Homo sapiens: one gene and its partners. The protein of the gene in region 3 interacts with the protein of the main gene of each other region in a pairwise test. Each region holds a gene or a part of one and is shown on either strand. Other genes may lie near its edges.

Region 1 (7,294 bases), on a different chromosome or scaffold from region 3:
ATTGCTAAGAGTTACCATTATAACATGTAAATGAGACTACTGAAAATAGATTTACATACAAGGTGTGTAAGAACAGTAAAATGTTTTGTGGTAAAATATTATAAAAAGGCATGGAAATGTAAATATTGCCTAAGGATAAAGGATTGTTTTGAAACCAACTTAAGGGTAAAATCTTGCTTTCTCTCCCTTGTATACGATTGTCATGTAATAGTGAAGAATAATGAAAGATTTTCATTTGCATGGTGGATAGACTGCCAAGAAGAGGAAAGAAGACAGGAGACAAACTTTGGAAAGCTAAGTCTTCCCTCTTAATGAGTAAAGATTTTTGCCTTGTTTTAAAATTTTTGAGTCATCATTTAGGCAAAGTAAATAACTTATGGTAACCTGGAACTGTATTTCATAATATCAAGTGTTTTAAACCTCTAACATTTAACAGGCTTTTCAAAATCAAACTTCAGTTTCAAAATTGTCTTTCCTGACCCTCTAGCTTTTCAATGCTACAGAGGGCCCTGAAGCATCCAGAAGAGAGGTAAACAGGATTATTTAACATATTTAGGCACGTGGAATTGCCAAAATGATGTTTAATGTTCTTCAGGTTATATTTTAGTGAATAATACTGATATGTGTTCCAAAATTGTATGGGATGTCTAAAATTCCAATGTCTGAGTACATGTTATCAATCAAAATTAAGGTTATGTTAAACCATTGTCAACCACAGAAATAACCAGATTTGTCAATCGTGTTTTTAACTGTAACTACCCTAGAAATTTTGTCATTCACAGACAATTGTCGTCTTGTTTTAAGCTTTTTCAAGAGACAGCTTATAATCAGCTATAAGACTTTAACAGGTGCTTTCACATGCAGGTTTCTGATAACTTTGGAAATCGTGACATGGGAGTAAAGACATACATACTACCAGTTTAGATTCTTTAATGGTTAGTAGTTTAATCAGATATTCTATGTCTTCTTGAATCAATTATGGTATTTTCAATTTTGCAGAAAATTAATTTATCCAACTCTTCAAACATATTAGCATAAAGTTGTGCCTAGTATTCTCATATAAATTTTTCTATATTATCTGTACATGTGCCCTTTTATTCCTATTATGTCTTTTCTTGAAGTCTTATTACTTTTCATTGAGATAAATTTACATATAATTAAAGTGCAAAAACTTTAAGTGTACAGCTTGATAAATTTTTACATATATATGTGTGTATATATATATCTGTTTAACTTCCAACAAAATCAAAATATAGAACATTTCCAATATCCCTAGAAGGCACCTTTGTGGCCTCTAAGTCAATAACCCCAAAATGTCTATGTAAGTAAGTCTGCTTGAATTTCATGTAAATAAAATGCTACAGTATGTACTCTCTTCCTTTAATCTGTAAGATTAATTTTTGTTGTTGTATGTATCAGTAGTACATTTGTTTTGTAGGGCTTTTTGAAAATTAAGTATTCCATTATTTGAGTTGACCATTCAATTTCATTTTTATTTTTTATTTTTATTTTTTTGAGACAGTCTCATCTCACTCTGTCGCCCAGACTGGAGTGCACTGGCACAATCTCAGCTCACTGCAACCTCTACCTCCCAGCTTCAAGCAATTCTCATGCCTCAGCCAGGCTGGTCTCAAACTCCTGGCCTCAAGTGATCCGCCTGCTTGGCCTCCCAAAGTGCTGGGATTACAGGTGTGAGCCACGGCACCCAGCCTGATAATTCAATTTCATCTGTCTCAACTGGGCTTTGTGACCCAGGTATTGTCCTTTGCTAAGAGCCTCAGAATGCTGTTTTGTTTTCACAATTCTGAAAAACAGTTTCAGGAACAACATTCAGGCTATTTCCCTAAACAAAAACAAAAGATAAGTGCAAAAGAAAAAAAGAAAAGAGTGTGTCACCAGAAGGATAATGAGGTTGTCTGATTTGTAAAAGGAAATATCTATAGCTGGAGATAAATGGCAAAGTTGTCCAGCCAGGTAGGTTCCCAAAAGTATTTTAATTTTCTTAATGATTATGTCTGGGGTTACTTTGGTACTTTTCTTACAAGCAAACTTTGTGGCCATAGGCCTCTCCATTTTAAAAAGAATAATTAAATTCTCTACAAAATTACTTTCATTCTCCTTTGCTGAGGGCTTTAGAATCTTCCAGTCCTGTGGAGTTGCTCAGTTTCTTCCCTGGATCCTGTTTTCAAAAACAGACAGAAGGGCAACCCGCTCGGGTCCCCTTCCACACTGTGGAAGCTTTGTTCTTTCGCTCTTCACAATAAATCTTGCTGCTGCTCATTTAAAAAAAAAAAAAAGGAAAGGAAACAGGCCACAGACAGAAAACAGGCCACTGATTGCCTCAGGATTAGGAATGCAGAAGGGAGGATCACAATGGAGCAAGAGTAATCTTTTAGGGGTGATGGATATGTTCATTTATCTTGGCTGAAGTGATGGGTTCACAGGTATATAGATATGTCAAAACTTATCAAACTGTACACATTAAATATGTAAAGTTTATTATATGTCAATTCCACCTAAAAAAATCTGTTAAAAATGGAATAGATACAATATTTATAAAATACATGCAGGTTATAACAAATCATGAAACAACAGAACACTCCCTGTATCCATCACCCAGTTTTTTAAAGTAAATGTTTACTATTTTTAAAAAATTATTTTTTTCTGTGTTCCCTAGCCACCCTAAAGCTCAGGCCTTTTTCTTTTTCTTCTTTCTTTTTTTTTTTTTTTTTTTTAAAGAGATAGAGTCTCACTATGTTGCCCAGACAGGATTTGAATTCCTGGGCTCAAGGTATGCTTCTGTCTTAGCTCCTCAGTAGCTGAGACCATGGGCACCCACCACTGTGCCCAGATTCGGGCTTTCTTGTAAAAAGCGGATGGATGCTTGAAACTATTTTCTGAATCCCTTTGGCTCCCAAATGTGAATATTCTGGGAAATATTTTTATCCAAATTAGCTGAGTAATCGAGTAGTTAGGCACATTTTGAAGACTGAGGCTTGTCCTTTAAAAGAAGGGCAGCCCACAAACTGACTTCCTTGAGCCAAAAATTGTTTTAAAAGGGGAAGTACAGCCCAAAACAGTGATTTTAAAATATCAACAAAAAGAGTCAAATTCTGTAAAATATTTAAAGAGATTTATTCTGAGCCAAATATGAGTGACCATGTCCTGTGACACAGCCCTCGGGAAATCCTGAGAACATGTGCCCAAGGTGGTCAGGGTACAGCTTGGTTTTCTACATTTTAGGGAGACATGAGGCTTCAATCAAATACATTTAAGAAATACATTGGTTCAGTCCAGAAAGGCAGGACAACCCGACGCGAGGCAGGGAGCTTCCAGGTTATAGGTACGTTTTAAATTTTTCTGGTTGACAATTGGTTGAGTTTATCTAAAGACCTGGGATCAATAGAAAGGAAATGTCTGGGTTGCAATAAGAGTTGTGGAGACTGAAGTTTTATTATGCAGATGAAGCCTCCAAGTAGCAGGCTTCAGAGAGAATAGATTGTAAATGTACTTAAGGTCTGCGTTGATGTGAATGCCGGCTTGAGGTATAATGAGGCATATCTGACCCCCACTTCCCCTCATGGCCTGAAACAATCTCTCAAGTTAAATTTTAAAAGCGCCCTGGCCAAGGAGAAAGTCCATTCAGATGGTTAGAGGCCTTAGAACATTATTTTTGGTTTACAAAAACGTTGAGTTGTGAACACTGAGAGCCTCTGCCCAGAATGTAAAAGAGAGAATTCTTGCTGACTGTGGCCGGGCATGCATGTCCTTTCACTTCCTTTTTTTTTTTTTAAAAAAAAAAAAAAAAAAAAAAAAAACAGGGTTTGGGCGGGGGAAGTAAGGGGGATGTGTTATGATAAAGGGGCCTTGGCAGCACTCTTCTGGTGTGGTTTGACCAGGCTCCACCCACGAATTCTGTTTTCTTTTAGAGGTCACTGGAGAGCCCGGTGGGGTGTAAGTACACTGCGCTTATAAAACTCTAGCAGGAAGCTAGCAGCTGTCTCCAAACCCAGAGAAGGGGAAACAGGAATCGATTAGGAATAAAGGATTATAATCCACTTTCCTTCTGAGGAAAAGCTGGGAACCTTCTCATTTTGCCTTATGAAAACTAAGCTGAATCGACTGCTGCCAAACATCTATTAGGCAAAATTGGCCTCTTGCCCATGATTTGACTTTCCAGCACAGCCAGTTCTTTTTCTCCTCTGCAGCTGATTGGCTCTGGAGTGTGGCCAGAAGCCTCTCTCCTGCAATTAAAGGAGTCGGGTCTCTAACTGTTGATCTGTTTTTTTCCCTTCTGAGCAATGGAGCTTACCATCTTTATCCTGAGACTGGCCATTTACATCCTGACATTTCCCTTGTACCTGCTGAACTTTCTGGGCTTGTGGAGCTGGATATGCAAAAAATGGTTCCCCTACTTCTTGGTGAGGTTCACTGTGATATACAACGAACAGATGGCAAGCAAGAAGCGGGAGCTCTTCAGTAACCTGCAGGAGTTTGCGGGCCCCTCCGGGAAACTCTCCCTGCTGGAAGTGGGCTGTGGCACGGGGGCCAACTTCAAGTTCTACCCACCTGGGTGCAGGGTGACCTGTATTGACCCCAACCCCAACTTTGAGAAGTTTTTGATCAAGAGCATTGCAGAGAACCGACACCTGCAGTTTGAGCGCTTTGTGGTAGCTGCCGGGGAGAACATGCACCAGGTGGCTGATGGCTCTGTGGATGTGGTGGTCTGCACCCTGGTGCTGTGCTCTGTGAAGAACCAGGAGCGGATTCTCCGCGAGGTGTGCAGAGTGCTGAGACCGGTGAGTGAAAGGGTGTGAGGAGGACTAGTTAGTAGCAGCTATTATCATAGAGGGCAGGCCTGTCAATTTCAGGTGGCTGAAACATTTTAACATAAAAAGTAAACTACTAGAAAATACTGTAGAATTTTTTAAAATTTTAGCGTGGGAGAGAAGCTATAAAGAGAAAGATTGATAAATCTGAATATAAAAACTTAAAACTGCTATAAAGAAAAAACCTCCTGGCCGGGCACAGTGGTTCACGTCTGTAATCCCAGCATTTTGGGAGGCCAAGGCAGGCAGATCGCTTGAGGTCAGGAGTTCGAGACCAGACTGACCAATATGGTGAAACCCCATCTCTATTAAAAATACAAAAATTAGCCAGGCATGGTGGCAGGTGCCTGTAGGCAGGAGAATCGCTTGAACCTGGTGGGGCAGAGGTTAAAGTGAGCCAAGATTGCACCACAGCACTCCAGCCTAGGCAACAGAGTGAAACTCCATCTCAAAAAAAAAAAAAAAAAAAAAAAGAAAGAAAGAAAAAAAAGAATAAGAAAAAAAAACTCCCCAAAACAAAGTTAAACTACAAAACAAGCTTGGAAAAAATATTTGCCAGGGATGATAGACAAAGGGTTAACTTCCCTCATGTTAAAAGACATTACATGTCAATAAGATCAATATTTTTCAATAAGAAAAACAAAAGGGAAAATGGGCAAATAACAGGAACAGAAATGTAAACCAATTATAGGACAAAAGTGCTCAAACTTAAAGAGTTAATTAAAGGAGATACTAATTTTACCTATTATACTGTTAGGGACTTCTTTTAAGGTCAGTATAGGGTTGGGGTGGGTTTAGGGGACTGGACACCACCATACACATTAGAAGAGGTACCCTCTTTGGGTGGTATCTGATAATATCAAAATTTAAACCACACATACTCTTTTATCCACATGCAAAAACTTGTCCATACACAAGAATATTAAGTAGAATTTGTAATTGCACAAACTGGAAATAACTGAAATGTCTATCAATAGGATGCTATGTAAGTGAGTTGTCATATTGTATAAAGGAACACTGTGCAGCTGTCAGAAAGAACAAGAAGAGTTATCTGTGCTGATACTTAAAAATCCCCAAGGGATAATGTTTAATGAAAACAAAAAGCAATCAAGCCACAGAATGTTAGGTAGAGCGTAGGCCCACCACATGCCCATTGTGTGAGGCAGGGAGAGGAGATACATATATGTGTATAAGTTAATGGGAATGACAGACAAGTAACTATTAACAGTGGTTGCCTTTGGGGAATGGGATTGGATTCAGGGAAAGAATTACTTTTCATTTTAAACCTTTCCGTAAAGTCTGTAATTCTTTATACCTGTATGTAGTTTTCACATATTACCCTTATTATTTTTAGCTAGTTTAAAATCGTTTTATATTCTGAACAAAGTTGAAGATATGGATATCTTAACATTTGAATTTACTCTTCTGGGGGAAAGGCATGTTTTGTAATCCCCAGTTTTCATTTTTTGTTGAGACAGGGTTTCCCTCTGTCACCCAGGCTGGAGTGCAGTGGCATGATCACAGCTCACTGCAGCCTTGACCTGCTGGACTCAAGCAATCTTTCCGTCTCAGCCTCCCCACCCTCCCAGCAGCTGGGACTACAGGCATGCACCACCACACCCAGCTAGTTTTTGTATTTTTGTAGAGATGAGGTTTCGCCATGTTGCCCAGGCTGGTCTCAAACTCCTGGGCTCAAGTGGTCTGCCCACTTTGGCCTCTCAAAGTGTTGGGATTACAGGTGTGAGCCACCATGCCCAACCATCAGTTTTATTTTCTAATAGAGGAAGTTCCTCAGGAAGAAAAGAACTTGGAGATAGGGTTTAGGGAAAATCATACAATCCTGTCTTGGCTCAATATCAGAGTAGTAAATAAAAAAGGACTGATTCTTATACCCAAATGCTGGGTTCTTATATGCTAAGACTGGGCACCAACTGGCACATTAGTAGATGTTTTGCTTACAGTGTTACTAATCTCCCAACACCGCTGCAAGGCAGGTAATTATTATCTCAGTTTTCCAGTGCCAAAAATCAATTGAACTCTTAAAGTTATCACATTCGTGATAGTCTTCCTTAGCTCCTGCCAAGCACCCACTCTCTGCTGGATATAACAAGGGAACTTTATTACATTTTCATTTAACCCTGTCAACAGTCCTCTAAAGTACATATCTTCATGTTAGGACAAAGAAACAGACTCAGAGAGATTAAGGAATTTGCCCAAAGTTACACAGCTAGTAGACATGGCTCTCTTTAATGCAAATGCAAATATTCCTTTTTTTTGAAACAGAGTCTTGCTCTGTCGCCCAGGCTGGTGTACAGTGGCATGATCTTGGCTAACTGCAGCCTCCACCTCCCAGGTTCAGTGACTCTCCTTGCCTCAGCCTCCCGAGTAGCTGGGTTTACAGGCACATGCTACCACGCCTGGCTAACTTTTATATTTTTAGTAGGGATGGGGTTTCACCATGTTGG
Region 2 (7,026 bases), on a different chromosome or scaffold from region 3:
CTTAATGATTGAATAACAAGTATATGTCTTATTTCCTACCTAGACTGTAAACAACTCAAAGGAAGAAACCTTTATTTATCTTTGTAGTTTTGGCAACATATCTGATGAATTAGTGACTTAGCTGGACTCAGTCTTACACAGACTTCCAAACTCATCCATCTTTCTTACCCTCTTCACATCACAGGCCCTTCTTCTAAGTTCTGACCCTCAAATTTTACTAATTGCTGGTTGTCATATATGATAGCTATTGAATTAACATTGTGGCTGAGAGCACTTAGCATATATTATCTCATTAGTCCCAACAATCTTATGAAGCAGGCATTTTAATCCTATTTCACAGATAAGAAATTAGAAGCTGAAAGAAGTTAGGTACCTTACTCAAAGTTACAGAACTTATGACAGAGTTAGGACTGGACCCAATAGCAAGCGTGCACTTAAGTGCTGATACTGGCTGCCTTAGTATCAGCCTTCTACAAGTCTTTCATCTACTGTTACAGGCTGATCTACCCTCCAATTTCCTTAAACAACCGGTGTTTTCCTACTCTCTGGGTCCTTGGACAGCACCTCAGTCTGGTATCACATTAACACTGCTCCCCTAACAAGTTCTTGCTGAATTACCCCAGTGGGAGTGATTGCCCTTGGCTTTCTCTCTGCAGAGGACTTCTCATGTCATCTACCTCCTATTCATAAGCAATCAAACTCAGTTTGTTCTCAGTGTGGTCTTCTGAGCCATTTCAGGGGGTCCGTGGGTCAAAACTATTTTCATCGTAATTTCTTCTGGGCCCTTTCAGGGGATCCATGGGTCGAAACTATTTTCATCATAATTTTTTTTATTTTTTTTTTGAGACAGGCTCTGGCCCTGTTGCCCAGGCTGGAGTACAGTCGTGTGATCTCAGCTCATTGCAACCTCTGCCACCTGAGCTTAAGCTGTCCTCCCATCTCAGCCTTCTGAGTAGCTGGGACTACAGGTGTGCACCACCATGCCTGGCTAATTTTTGTATGTTTTGTAGAGACAGGGTTTGCCATGTTGCTGCAGGCTAGTATCAAACTCCTGAGCTCAAGCAATCTGCCCAGGTTGGCCTCCCAAAGTGCTGGGATTATGGGTGTCAGCCACCAGGCCTAGCTTATTTACATCATAATTTTAAGATGCTATTTGTCTGGGTTTGTTTGTTTTTCTTTTTCTTTTTTAACATTTGCACCATTAGTACAAATGTTGAATGTTTGTACTAATGGTGCAAAAGCAATTGTGGAAAAAACTGCTGGTGCCTTAGCAAAAATCAGAGCAGTGGCACCAAACTGTTGCACTCTAATAGATCATTGTATTCCTCTCTACCAAGCACTCATAGTAAAACAAATGCTAGTTTCATTTAAGAATGTCCTTGATAGGCCAGGCCTGGTGGCTCATGCCTGTAATCCCAGCACTTTGGGAGGTCGAGGAGGGTGGATCACGAGGTCAGGAGTTCAAGACCACCCTGGACAACATGGTGAAACCCCGTCTCCACTAAAGATACAAAAATTAGCCGGGCATGGTGGTGTGCACCTGTAATCCGAGCTACTCAGGACTCAGGAGGCTGAGGCAGGAGAATAGCTTGAACCCAAGAGGCGGAGGTTGCAGTGAGCCAAGATCGTGCCACTGCACTATAGCCTGGGACAGAGCAAGACTCCATCTCAAAAAAAAAAAAAAAAAAGAATGTCCTTGATAAAACAGTACAATATAGAACAATTCACAGACAAACTATGGTTATTCAGGTTTGGGTATCTGAAAGACATTTTCTCAAAAATGAAGAAAGTGAGCCTGTGCAACTGTAATTTCAAAGACAACAACTAACAGCATTTGTTGCTAATGGTAAAATGAAAGTTTTTTTTTGTTGTTTTTTTTTTGAGACAGAATTTTGCCCTTTCACTTAGGCTGGAGTGCAGTGGCGTGATCTCGGCTCACTGCAACCTCCGCCCCCAGGGTTCAAGCGATTCTCCTGCCTCAGCCTCCCGAGTAGCCGGGATTATAGGCGCCCACCACCACGCTCAGGTAATTTTTGTATTTTTAGTAGAGACAGGTTTTCGTCATGTTAGCCAGGCTGGTCTCCAACTCCTGAACTCAGGTGATCCTCCAGCCTCGGCTTCCTAAAGTGCTAGGATTACAAGTGTGAGCCACAGCACCCGGCCAAAATGAAAGTTGTTTGTTTTTTTTTTTTGAGATGGAGTCTTGCTCTGTCGCCCAGGCTGGAGTGCAGTGGCCTGATCTCTGCTCACTGCAACCTCCGCCTCCCAGGTTCAAGCTATTCTCCTGCCTCAGCCTCCTGAGTCCTGAGTAGCTCGGATTACAGGTGCGCACCACCACGCCCGGCTAATTTTTGTATTTTTAGTAGAGATGGGGTTTCACCAAGTTGGTCAGGCTGGTCTCAAACTCCTGACCTCGTGATCCACCTGCCTCAGCCTCCCAAAGTGCTGGGATTACAGACATGAGCCACCACACTCAGCCCAAAGTGAAAGTTTTAAAGAAAAAATTAGAACTTTGAAAAATTTGTGTTCACCATTATAAATTTGAGAGCGTATGACTTTTCTGATAAGATCAGTGGTGATATTAGTTATTTGCAGCTTTATAACATCTTTTCTGTTTTCTCATTGTTTTAGTATTTTAATATGTGTTTGTCTTCCCACTAAGATGGTAAACTCTATGAAGGGAAGAACTACTTAATACTTGTTTATGTCCTCTTTAAAACCTAGAGCTGAATTATATGCAGAATAGTCACTTGGTTAGTTTATGTTGACTACTTTGTTATTTTGACTCCTGGTATTAGTTAAAATGTGTGTGTGTGTGTGTGTGTGTGTATGCACACACACACGCATGTATTCATATACATATTGAGTTCATAAGAAGTCCAGGCTCCTGGTGACTCTGTGTCTGTCTAAGTTGTTTAGTTCACTTTTTTTCCCATATAACTTGCTCAAAATTTTTCTTAAATTAACTTTTTTGGTAAATGCAAAATCAAGTATTTGCTGTAAAATTAATCCAAATATTAAAAAATAAATACATCTTTCTTTTAAAAATTACTTAATGACAATCTGCGGCACTAAAGCAGGGGTTGACAAACTAAGACCTGTGAGCCAAATCCGGCCCACTGCCCATTTTTGTAAATAAAGTTTTATAAGACCACAGCCATGCCCATTCATTTACGTACCATCTATGGTGGGTTTTGCACTACAACAGCGGGTTGTGACAGAAACCACATGGCCTACAGAGTTGAAAATATTTGTTATCTGGCCCTTTATAGAAAAACTTTGCCAACTTTGGCTTTAGAGCATGAACCTTTCAAAAAATGATGTTTATAATTCTTCTTAAATTGCACATGTTGTATTTTACAACAAAATATACCTCTTATTTAAAACAAAACAAAACCAAGAGAAAAAAAAAACTCTGTAGCTAAAACTCCCAGGAATCTTCAAAAAGAATCCTGAAAAAAACTGATACAATCTCCCAAGGGGTTATGTTCCAGTCTTCTCTCTTATGGTTTAAGATTTTATTATGACTTTTATCCAGGCCTATCTATCAAAGCTAAATTATGATCACCAAAAACATAATCAAAAACAGACTGGGTAGGGTTAAAACATTTGGAGGCCACCCACTAAAAAGATTATGAGTGACACCTGCTGTTAGCCGTAAATGAATAACTGTATGGAGCTGGTCCACCTGCCATGAATGACTGAAAAACTAAACAAAATATATGAAACAATAGCTGTGGGACAGTAGGACAAAGGCGGGACAGGACTGTAATTACTGCAATAAGGGAAAACTGGGAAAAGTCTTGCAATGGCCTCCTCCCTGCGCAAGGGAGGAGGAATCCAAGGGAGTTTTTGAGACAGAGTCTCACTCTCTTCCCCAGGCTGGAGTACAGTGGCACAATCTCGGCTCACTGCAACCCCCTTCTCCCATGTTCAGGCAATTCTCCTGCCTCAGCCTCCCCAGTAGCTGGGACTACTGGCATCCTCCACCATGCCTAATTTTTGTTTTTTAGTAGAGACAGGGTTTCGTCAGGTTGGCCTGGAACTCCTGACCTCAGGAGATCCTCCTGCTTCGGCCTCCCAAAGTGTTGGGATTACAGGTAGGAGCCACCATGCTCGGCCTAGCACAGCAGTCTTGAAGGATTGAGGAGACAGAGACTTCAGTTCAGGGAGGCTGAGGCAGCCAGCAGGGTTTGCAAGAGAGTGAGGGAGCTATGCAGATAAAGAGCTCTAGGAATCTGCACTGGGGTCCCCTTGAGTCTGATGCTGAGTCCTAAGATGCTGAGCAACAAATACTGACAGCTATAAAGTGAACAACTCCCAGGTTCAGTCACGTAGGACCTAGGACCGGGAGACACTCAAATTCCATCCAGCCAGAGTAGAGCTATCGCACTGAACCCTCGGGGCAATCAAGAGAGACTCCAGAAGGGCCATGCTTTGTAACAAGGCTAAATTAGCCCTAACATAAAGGCTATATTAGACTTGACCTAACAAAGCTTAACGATAAGCCTAGAAAGGATCAGCCTAATCCACAATCACTTAGCTGCACACCAAACAAACTCCAACACTATTTAAAAGAGGACAACAAGCTGGGCATGGAGGCTCATGCCTGTAATTCCAAGATTTTGGAAGGCCAAGGCAGGCGGATTACCTGAGGTTGGGAGTTTGAGACCAGCCTGACCAACATGAAGAAACTCCGTCTCTACTAAAATTACAAAATTAGCTGGGCGTGGTGGCGCATGCCTGTAACCCCAGCTACTCCGAAGGCTGAGGCAGGAGAATCGCTTGAACCCGGGAGGCGGAGGTTGCAGTGAGCCGAGATCGCACCATTGCACTCCAGCCTGGGCAACAAGAGCAAAATTCCGGCTGAAAAAAAAAAAAAAAAGACAACAAAATCCAAACACTCAACAACATAATACACATAGAGATGACAGAATTAACATACAAGGATATTAAAATAGCTATTATAAACATGCTCCATATACTCAAGAATGTAGAGGAAAATATGGACACAATGAAGAAAGAAATGGAAGACTAAAAAAAAAGATTCTACTTAATTCTTTGTTATGTCTTCAACAATTAAAAATACAGTAACTGAAATTTTTAAATTCACTAAATGGAATTATCAGATTAGACACTGCAGTAGACAAGATGAATGAACTTAGCAATAGAAATTATTCAAATTGAAGCTAAAGAGTAAAAAGACTGGAAAAAATCTATCAAGTTCCACTGATTTATGGGACAATATCAACCCATCTAACATACATGAAATGTGAGTCACACAGAAGGAGAGGAGAGCAGAGGAATTAAAAAAATATATTTGAAGAAATAGTAGCAGAAATTTTTCCAAATTTGATTCAAAAAACTATAAGCTGACAGATCCATAAATCTCAAACAATATCAGTCAGGACAAAAAAAATCACACCACGGCACATCACAAATTGCTCAAAACCTATGCCAATAAAAACAAAACAAAAGGATCATGCTGCTCCTCTGGCTCCATGTGTAAAATAAAATAAAAACGATTCTACTCCAAAGAAAGCAAATAACATCTTTTTTCTTTTTTTTTTTGAGACAGAGTCTTGCTCTGTTGTCCAGACTGGAGTGCAGTGGCTCGGTCTCGACTCACTGCAACCTCCACCTCCCGGGTTCAAGTGATTCTCCTGTCTCAGCCTCCCGAGTAGCTGGAATTACAGGCACCTGCCACCACACCCAGCTAATTTTTTGTATTTTTAGTAGAGACGGGGTTTCACCATGTTGGTTTTGTATTTTTAGTAGAGACGGGGTTTCACCATATTGGCCAGGCTGGTCTCAAACTCCTGACCTCGTGATCTGCCGGCCTCGGCCTCCCAAAGTGCTAGGATTACAGGGGTGAGCCACTGCACCCGGCCTGCAAATCACATCTTTCTAGATCTTCTTGATTGAACAAATGTAGGTAAAATTCATTAAAGTTGAACTTTTCTCATTTTTGTTGAGGCCTTCCTTTGCTGGTATCCCTAGCATAAGCTTAGTCTATCTACTGGTTAATCAAGTATGACCAAAGTATAAACTACTGAAAAATAACAATATCATAATAAATTTATATACCTTACAGTTCACAAATGTCAAATACTTTAGATTGTATGCTCCTTGGGGTCAGGATCTTCAAATCTTTGCCCATACATTTCTAGCGCAGTTTCTCATGGAACTTAACTGTCTGAACACACATGAATGAGTCAATCTTATTTCACCCTCAGTACCCTGCTGCGGTGTGTAGAATAAAATGAGACAACAGATGCCTAGAGGGGTTAAATCATTCCCCCAAGGATACTCAAAAGGCACCCCCAGATAAATACCACCACACAGTGTTACCTCAAAGTAGACACAAAAGAGGTTTTAATTTTACTTACTCTGACTTTCCACAAGATCCAAAGCAACACTAGAAGCTGTGTCCATACCAGAGTTGATACAGGCTTGGAAGTTTTTCAAGGAGGAGAGAGCAGACTCTACACCACTGAAGGAGATGAAACCAGTTGAACCTGAATTTGAACTGGAACGTCCTGGCATCTTGAAATTAGTACCTAAGTTTTCAAACACAATGAAACAAGATTCGTAAGTCAGAATAATAACTGCACAGGAAAATATTAATAAAACTGCTGTAAACATTCATACAAATGTATCCAATATCTCATAAATGCCACACTATTCTGTATATCCTATAGAGAAGACACCAAATCACTGTGCCACTCACCTGGGCCACCAAACACAGCTGGACTCAATATATGGGGAAGGTAAGTGTCCTCAGTTTTTGGAGAGAGATTACCCTCTTCCAAAAGAGTGCTTGATTCTGTGAAGAAGTCAACAATAGCACAGTTCTTAAAAGCCTACAAGATAAATGGGTTAGAAAAAGTAGACCACTCATATGATGCAATTTTCCAAAGAGAAAAAAATACTAATAAAATAGTTTATTAGTAAACTATTTTGAAAACCTGTAATCGTTAAACTATCCAACATATATGCATACTGAATTCTGGAAACTGTAAAAAA
Region 3 (7,026 bases):
GTATCTCCCTGTTGGAAGCAGCCCTCTGTATTGCATGCTTCATTTGTTTACTTTCCTTTCCAGACTGGGATTCGTGAAGCAGAGACATTCCCAACACCCATCCCAGGGCCTGGCACATAGTAGATGTTTAGGAAGGGGAGGAATGAATGAACTCCCATCTTCTAATGCCAGTGTTTTTCTAAAGGAGCAATTTTCTGGGGCTAAAAAGGATGCCTTTTCCCTCTCATTTTATCCTCCTCATTGCACCCAACATGCCTTTATCGTGTTTTCCATGTCCTCTCCCTTTTCTGTATTATGGAGGACAGACAAGGAGTGAGGTATTGCTGGATGATTCAGGGAACATTCTTCCTCAGGTCATGCTGTTCTTCCCACCCTGCCCAGGCCAAGCCCTGTGTATGAACAGGTAAAGGGAGTTGTGGGTGCTGCATGGGAAGAGGCAGCCCTCAGCCCTCGTCCTGATGCCCCATCTGTGATGAATGACAACGCCTGCTTTACCCACCTTGGTGAGACTTGCTGAGAGCAGAATTGGGAAGTCACTTTGGAAAGTGGAAAGTACTTTGTCGGCATAAAGCAGTGGGATCTGTGGAAATGTGTTAGAGGACATTCATGTCAGTAAAGTGGTAAAAGATGGTCCAGACCCCACCAGGGTGGCAGAGGAGGGCAGTGCCTCTACAGGCATTCCCTGGTAGTGTTCCACATGTTTTTTTTGTTTGTTTTTTGGGGGTTTTTTTCCGGTGAAATTGGAGGGTATGTCCCAATGGGAGCTAGATTCCCAGGCTGGCCCACAAAAGCCTGTATGACTCATCACATAATAATATGTGTAAGTATCTACTAAGTTCTAGGTATGTGCTAGACAAATATATCAACTCAGTTCTTACAATAACCCATCAAAGGATAATTGACCCCCTTTTTACGAGCAAAGATGTTGAGACTTATCAAGATCAAATTACTTGCCTAAGGTCATGCAGCTAGTGAGTACTGGAGCTGACCCACAGTCAGGGATCATAAGCATGATGCTATAGCATCCTTCTGGTGGAGGATGGGAAGACTGTGAGCACCAGGGATGGGGAGAGCTGAGGAGCTTGGAGGGACTTCAGATCTTCCATAGAGATCATCTGTAAAGTCAGCTGCTTACAGTCACCTGGCTTTGAGCCACCCCTACCCAGAGAGAGGAGTGGCTTCTTCACTCCCAGCCCTTTCTGAGTTCCAGAAGGAGGTCAGTGCTGGCCTAGAGATGCCAGTCTTGTCTTCAGAGATTCTGGATGAATGAAGCAAACAGGATCCTGACTGAGGCAAGGGGGGTTCTCCAGGGCGCTGGCTCCAGTGTTGGAAGCCCTGTGACTCCAGGCCACTGGCCCAGGGGCATTAATATGCCATCAATGCTGACCCTGAAAATTGGCAATTTTTTGGAAATCTTTCAGCCTAACCAAGGGCCTGACCACTGTAGTCATTCAGTTAGAATTTAATACATGTATATGGAAAGTTGAAAATTTTAGGTACTAGGATGAACATTTGGATATTCAATGCAGGAAGATCTTTTTTCTGTCATTTTTGTTTATCCATACGCCACAGGTTTCATGGACAGGAAACTGAGAGAACAATAGACTTAAGGTTCCATATAGGTGAGAAATACTAAACAGGAATTAGACTTGGTAGAGAATGATTGATGTGCTGTTCACCTTTGGGATTTGTTGCTGCCTTTGGGGATTTAGGGTCTGTCTCTGGAGATGTGTTGCAGTAATTCTCCCTAGCTGAGATTCTACCTATGTTGGAATCAACTTTTGGGGAAATGGTTTTTGTTGTGTCACCAACTTTCAAGTGCCAGCTCCTCTTCCCTGGCAGGGTTCACCCTGTTCCCTCTGTACCCTAGCTCTGGCTGTGCAGAACTAATGGGAGTTAAGGTCATGACTATCCATTATGCATTTATTGGGTGCCAGGTACTGTGCTAAGCCCTTGATCTTCATCACCTCATTTGTCCTCGTGACAGAGGAAGGCTATTATCAGGCCACCATTACCTGACTCCACCACCACCTTTCTCACCACCAGTCTCAGCTCAGCTGTGTCTCCTTCCCGGCCCTTTTAACCTTTGATTAATCTCTCCCTCCTCTGTGTTTTAGTCACACTCATATGTATCCCTGGCATAACACACACATCTTGTGGCACTGTGATAATTGGTCTGTATGTTTACTCATCCATTCTTTTGTTCAACACATTTTATTGAGTGCCTCTTATGTGTTGTCTGTTGCCCTCTTTGGACTTGGAGTTCCTTTACAGCAAGAGACTATGCCTTGTTCTTGCTGTGTTGCCAACACATACCACTGTACCTGGCTCATAGTAGATCCTCAGGAAATATTTGCTAAGAGAAGGCCTCTATGTGAGGTCTAGTCCTAGAACAATCTTCTTTCAGTCCTTCCAGCCCCAGGCATTGGAAAATGGGAAATATGTCCCTTAGCTCTTAGCTTGGTGGAGAAACACAGCTGGGATTCTGGGTGCCTGACTCTCAGTGGTCCACCTTACTGGAGTTACAGTTAACTCCAAAGAGCCAATAATATCAACATCATTTCTCATGAGCTGTGGGTGTTTATTCATTTTTTCAGTAGGTGTTGAACACTTTATAGGTATCAGGCTATGTGCTGGGAGCTAGAGTCACAGAGTTGAATAGGACACACACACACACAAGACCTACAACCTAAAGAGATCATCAGCCTAGATGGAGAGGTGGTCAGTTAAGGTTGAAACGGGTTAAGTACCATGGTTCATTGAGAACACTGCTGGGGAGATTTTTAGGAGAAGGTGAGATTAGAGAAAGCTGCCTAGAGAAGATGTCATTTGATCTGAGCCCTGAAGAGGAGTAGGATTTGGACTTGAGGAAGTAGGTATAAAAAAAATGTCTGTATGAGCAAAGGTATAAAGGTGGTAGGTTGTGTTTTGAGGGAGCACAAATGTCATTCGGATAATTAATTTGTCAGTAATTGGCAAGGTGAAACAAGGGTGACCCTCATTGCCATGGGCATATCACTATGATGTTTTTATTTCCTTCTTCCACTTCTTCCTCTTACTCAAAAAATAGTTCTGCTATTGACACACTTTGTCCCTTAAAGAACAGGGGTGGGAGAACCTTCTGTGGAGTGAAGCCCTGTCCAGACAGTCACATGGGGTTCTTAGTCCTTCAGCCCACACTGCAAATGCACACACTGGGACCCCCTATATAAAGGCCCCTCTACATCTCAGCCATGTGCTGAGAAGGAGCCCACAGAGGCCTCCCAGCCCACCCGTGAGTTTCTAGAAGATGGAGATACTGAAGGCAGCTGCCTCACTCCATCAGCAGGAGGAGGCCAGGGAGGCAGATTAGTCACTCACATCATTTTATCTGTTGAGTCAACATCTATTTTTAGGCATGGAACCCATAAAGGGACCTGGCATGTCTGTCATGGAAAGGGGGAGAGTGCCATGGATGAGGGTTCTGCTCATCCTTCATCTTCTTTGCTAGACCCATTCTCTCCCCTGAAGGTCACAGAAGCAGGGTCCACATTACTGCTGGAGGTTTAGGTCTTAATGTCAAAGGTCTGGTTTAATGTGTTCAATTCCTTTTGCACACATGCTTTTGTGTGCACGCACACACACACACACACACACACACACACACACACACACACACACTCTCACCCCTACAGTCTTAATAGGTCTTATGAATCAGTTGTATGGATTAAATAGAACTTCCAACTGAAAAACGCTAAGGCATATAGGTCTCTTCCTGTCCAACGTTGTCAGATGTGCTCTGAAATGACTGTTTTCATCATCTATTCTGAGCCATAACCACCCCAGAAATAGCTTTAGCAGGAAAGTGCTTTTGTTAGACTAGCTGTAAATTATATTTCAAATGTCTGATGTTGTTTTCTTAAAAAATAAATAAATAAGTAAATGAAAGTCTAAAATTAATGACTGCTGGGGTTTGCTTTGCTTATGTGTACTGCTACAGATTTGGCTTCTTGCAGATGGAATTTCAGATCTGTTTACACTTCTGTGTTAGCTTTTGGGGGGAAGAAAAGCAGTTGAGAGATCTGGGAGGACAAATTTACAAAGTCGAACTTATTATAACCATTGGTGAGGCTCTCTTCTCTCTCTCTACTGCCCTTTCCCTCCCTCCTTTCCATCTTGCCCCCATTTTATTTGTTGTGGTTTTTATCTGCCCTGCTTCAAAGTTAGAGGCGACTGGTCCTTGCAGATGTGACGACAAGGTCACATATCCAGTTTCGCAAGCAGATGTTCATTCAGCCCTATTTCACCAGCACTTTGTCATTTGGTGAGAGCAGACCTCATGGGAACAGACTGGAGCAACACAAAGGATGGAACATAAAAAAATCTTGCAGAGAACCTGATTGCTTTTATGTATTCAGGAAGAAGGGGATGGGGGTAGGGAGGGTGGCAAGGAGAGAAATGTGCAGAGCAGAATTTCATGAGGTTTTTTTTTTTTTTCTGGTTTATTCAAAGATTATTATGTGTTGGATACAGTAAATCATCTATACACCCACTTCCAGGAGGTAAATCTTCAGAACTCCATGTGTGGGTAGCTCTGCATTTAACAGCTGCCATACAGTAGCTATTTTGTTCTGCACTTAGAGACCCTTATCTGTGCATTTGTTTTAAGTTATTGTCAACTCTCCTGTTGTTCCTCTATTGTTGTTCTCCTGGTTCTCATTACTATTACAAGGGTAGCTAAAAATCTGAACTACTGAGTGATTTAAACTGACACCATGAGTTGTAACGGTAGATGAGGGGCTGTCATCTTGGTTGTGGACTCAGCATCTACTCTGAGGGTGATTGCCTATAATGGAATTAGCTCCTCTTGCCTTTTCCTAGGTCTCATATGCCCGTCCGAGCTCTGCCTCAATCAGGGATGCTAACCTCTATGTTAGCGGCCTTCCCAAAACCATGACCCAGAAGGAACTGGAGCAACTTTTCTCGCAATACGGCCGTATCATCACCTCACGAATCCTGGTTGATCAAGTCACAGGTTAAGTGTTTCTTTGTAATTTCTTTCCTTGTATATCAATGTCATCAGCCCTGTTACTCATAAGAGCAGAAGGCTGATGGCTGCTTAAAGCAGATGATATGGATCATGAATAGACAGATTTTTGACTTGGAAGAAAGACTTCTTATCGGTCAACTGCCCAAATTTAAAATGGGCCATCTTGGGAGGTAGGAGTTCTCCATCATGGGACTTGTTTTAGCAGCAGCTAAACTACTTGCCAGGGTTGTAAAAAGGATTCAGGCATCAGGCTGAGAGTGGAACTGTATGACCTTCAAAGTCTGATTCAGCCCTCAACCAAATAACATTACTTTTGTATGTGAAAAGAACCTGTATGCATAGCTGTAACTCCAATTCATAGCATTATAGAGTTAGAAGGAATTGTCCCATTTCACACTTGAGGAAACAGGTTGAAAGTGGGGGATCTGACTCCCCAAAGCTAGTTAGTAGCAGTACAAGGATCTGAACCGAGGATCTGGTACTGGTGTTCTTTGTCCATAATAAAGAAAGGCAGCCACCACCTCTCAGTAAGAAATGTCAGGTACTCTGGGTTGCACTTTTAATGACAAGGTGTTTTCGCCTACCTCCAATTTGATTCCAATTTAGAACTCACCCCCTGAGAATAGTTTAGCACGTTTATCATGTGATTCATGAGACAAACCTTCACAGAAGTCTGCTCTGCCCTAGACATTGTGCAGAGGGACCCTGGAGACCAAGAAAGAAGCAGGCACTGCCCCACCCTTACAGGACTCCAGTGTGGAGTCCAAATACTTGCTAGAAGCTGTCAAGTGCCCCTGAGAGCTCAGGAGAAGGTGTGCCATGCCTGGTGGGAATTGCTAGGAGGGCCCCATTGAGGAGGCAATGTTTGAATAGGAGTTTGGAGGATGTTTCAGAGGTATCCAGCAAAAAGGAGGGACAGAGCAGTGTAAGTGGAGAGGAGAGCATATCCCAAGGCATGGAATCGAGGAAGAACAGTCTATTCGAGGAGGATCAGGCAGTTCAGGGTGGCTGGTGTGAGCCTCAATAGGGAATTTGGGGCCAGATTGCCAGAGGCATTGAATGCTGTGCCAAGAAGTCTGGACTTTATCTGGGTGCAGAATGGAGCCATGGAAGGGTATTTTGTAGGTTTTGTTTGTTTGTTATTCATTTTAGAATGGGAGTCAGTGAAGAATAGGTACTATGCACAAGGTACAAAATTCAAAAAGTACAAAAGAGATACAGAAGATGTTTTTAAAGCATATCATGTGGTCAGAGTTCACTTTTCAAATAGATTGCACACTAGCTACATGTGGAGGACACATGAGAAGACTAGAAACTGGACAGTGAGTGATCAGTTATAGTAACTTTTGGGAGGTGATGATGGGGCAGAGCAGTGATAGAGGACTAGAGGGGCCAGATGCAAGAGAGCCCTGTGTTCTGTGGCTGGGAGGCATCAGTCCAGAGCCATGATAGCAGGAATGCAGGTAAACGTGTTTTGATTGGTGAGAGAGATCAGGGAGCTGGGCTCAGCCCTGGCACCACAGGTGGGCTTACTCCTCACACAATATCCACAGGACCCATCTCTTCCCAAAGATGTTTACCAGTTTGGTGTGTTCACTCTTTACAAAGGCTCTTTCTCTTTCCCCAGGAGTGTCCAGAGGGGTGGGATTCATCCGCTTTGATAAGAGGATTGAGGCAGAAGAAGCCATCAAAGGGCTGAATGGCCAGAAGCCCAGCGGTGCTACGGAACCGATTACTGTGAAGTTTGCCAACAACCCCAGCCAGAAGTCCAGCCAGGCCCTGCTCTCCCAGCTCTACCAGTCCCCCAACCGGCGCTACCCAGGTCCACTTCACCACCAGGCTCAGAGGTTCAGGTAGGCATGCCCAAAGAGGAAGAAGCCCTGCTACAGGGGTTCATAGCTGGGCAAGAGCCAGGGAAGCCCATGGTCCTGACAAATGGGGCAAGGGTAAAAGCTTCCACCCCCAGGAATCACTGTGCAAAACTCCCCCCGAGCCTC

What was found. Proteins that work in one complex are often made in the same cells at the same time.
Region 1: the proteins of ELAVL4 (region 3) and TMT1A interact in binary tests that used the Homo sapiens proteins (3 or more experiments, as listed by UniProt).
Region 2: the proteins of ELAVL4 (region 3) and NSMCE2 interact in binary tests that used the Homo sapiens proteins (3 or more experiments, as listed by UniProt).

Annotation. Positions count from the first base shown.
Region 1 is NC_000012.12:50,920,738-50,928,031, forward strand, and holds the start of TMT1A (thiol S-methyltransferase TMT1A precursor), read left to right. Parts: upstream 1-4,277; 5' UTR 4,278-4,301; coding exon 4,302-4,799; intron 4,800-7,294. UniProt on the Homo sapiens protein: Thiol S-methyltransferase that catalyzes the transfer of a methyl group from S-adenosyl-L-methionine to alkyl and phenolic thiol-containing acceptor substrates.
Region 2 is NC_000008.11:125,101,851-125,108,876, reverse strand, and holds part of NSMCE2 (E3 SUMO-protein ligase NSE2), read right to left. Parts: intron 6,864-7,026; exon of another isoform or gene 6,827-6,863; 5' UTR 6,731-6,826; intron 6,561-6,730; 5' UTR 6,547-6,560; coding exon 6,390-6,546; intron 1-6,389. UniProt on the Homo sapiens protein: E3 SUMO-protein ligase component of the SMC5-SMC6 complex, a complex involved in DNA double-strand break repair by homologous recombination. Is not be required for the stability of the complex.
Region 3 is NC_000001.11:50,188,905-50,195,930, forward strand, and holds part of ELAVL4 (ELAV-like protein 4), read left to right. Parts: intron 1-4,860; coding exon 4,861-5,014; intron 5,015-6,656; coding exon 6,657-6,882; intron 6,883-7,026. UniProt on the Homo sapiens protein: RNA-binding protein that is involved in the post-transcriptional regulation of mRNAs. Plays a role in the regulation of mRNA stability, alternative splicing and translation.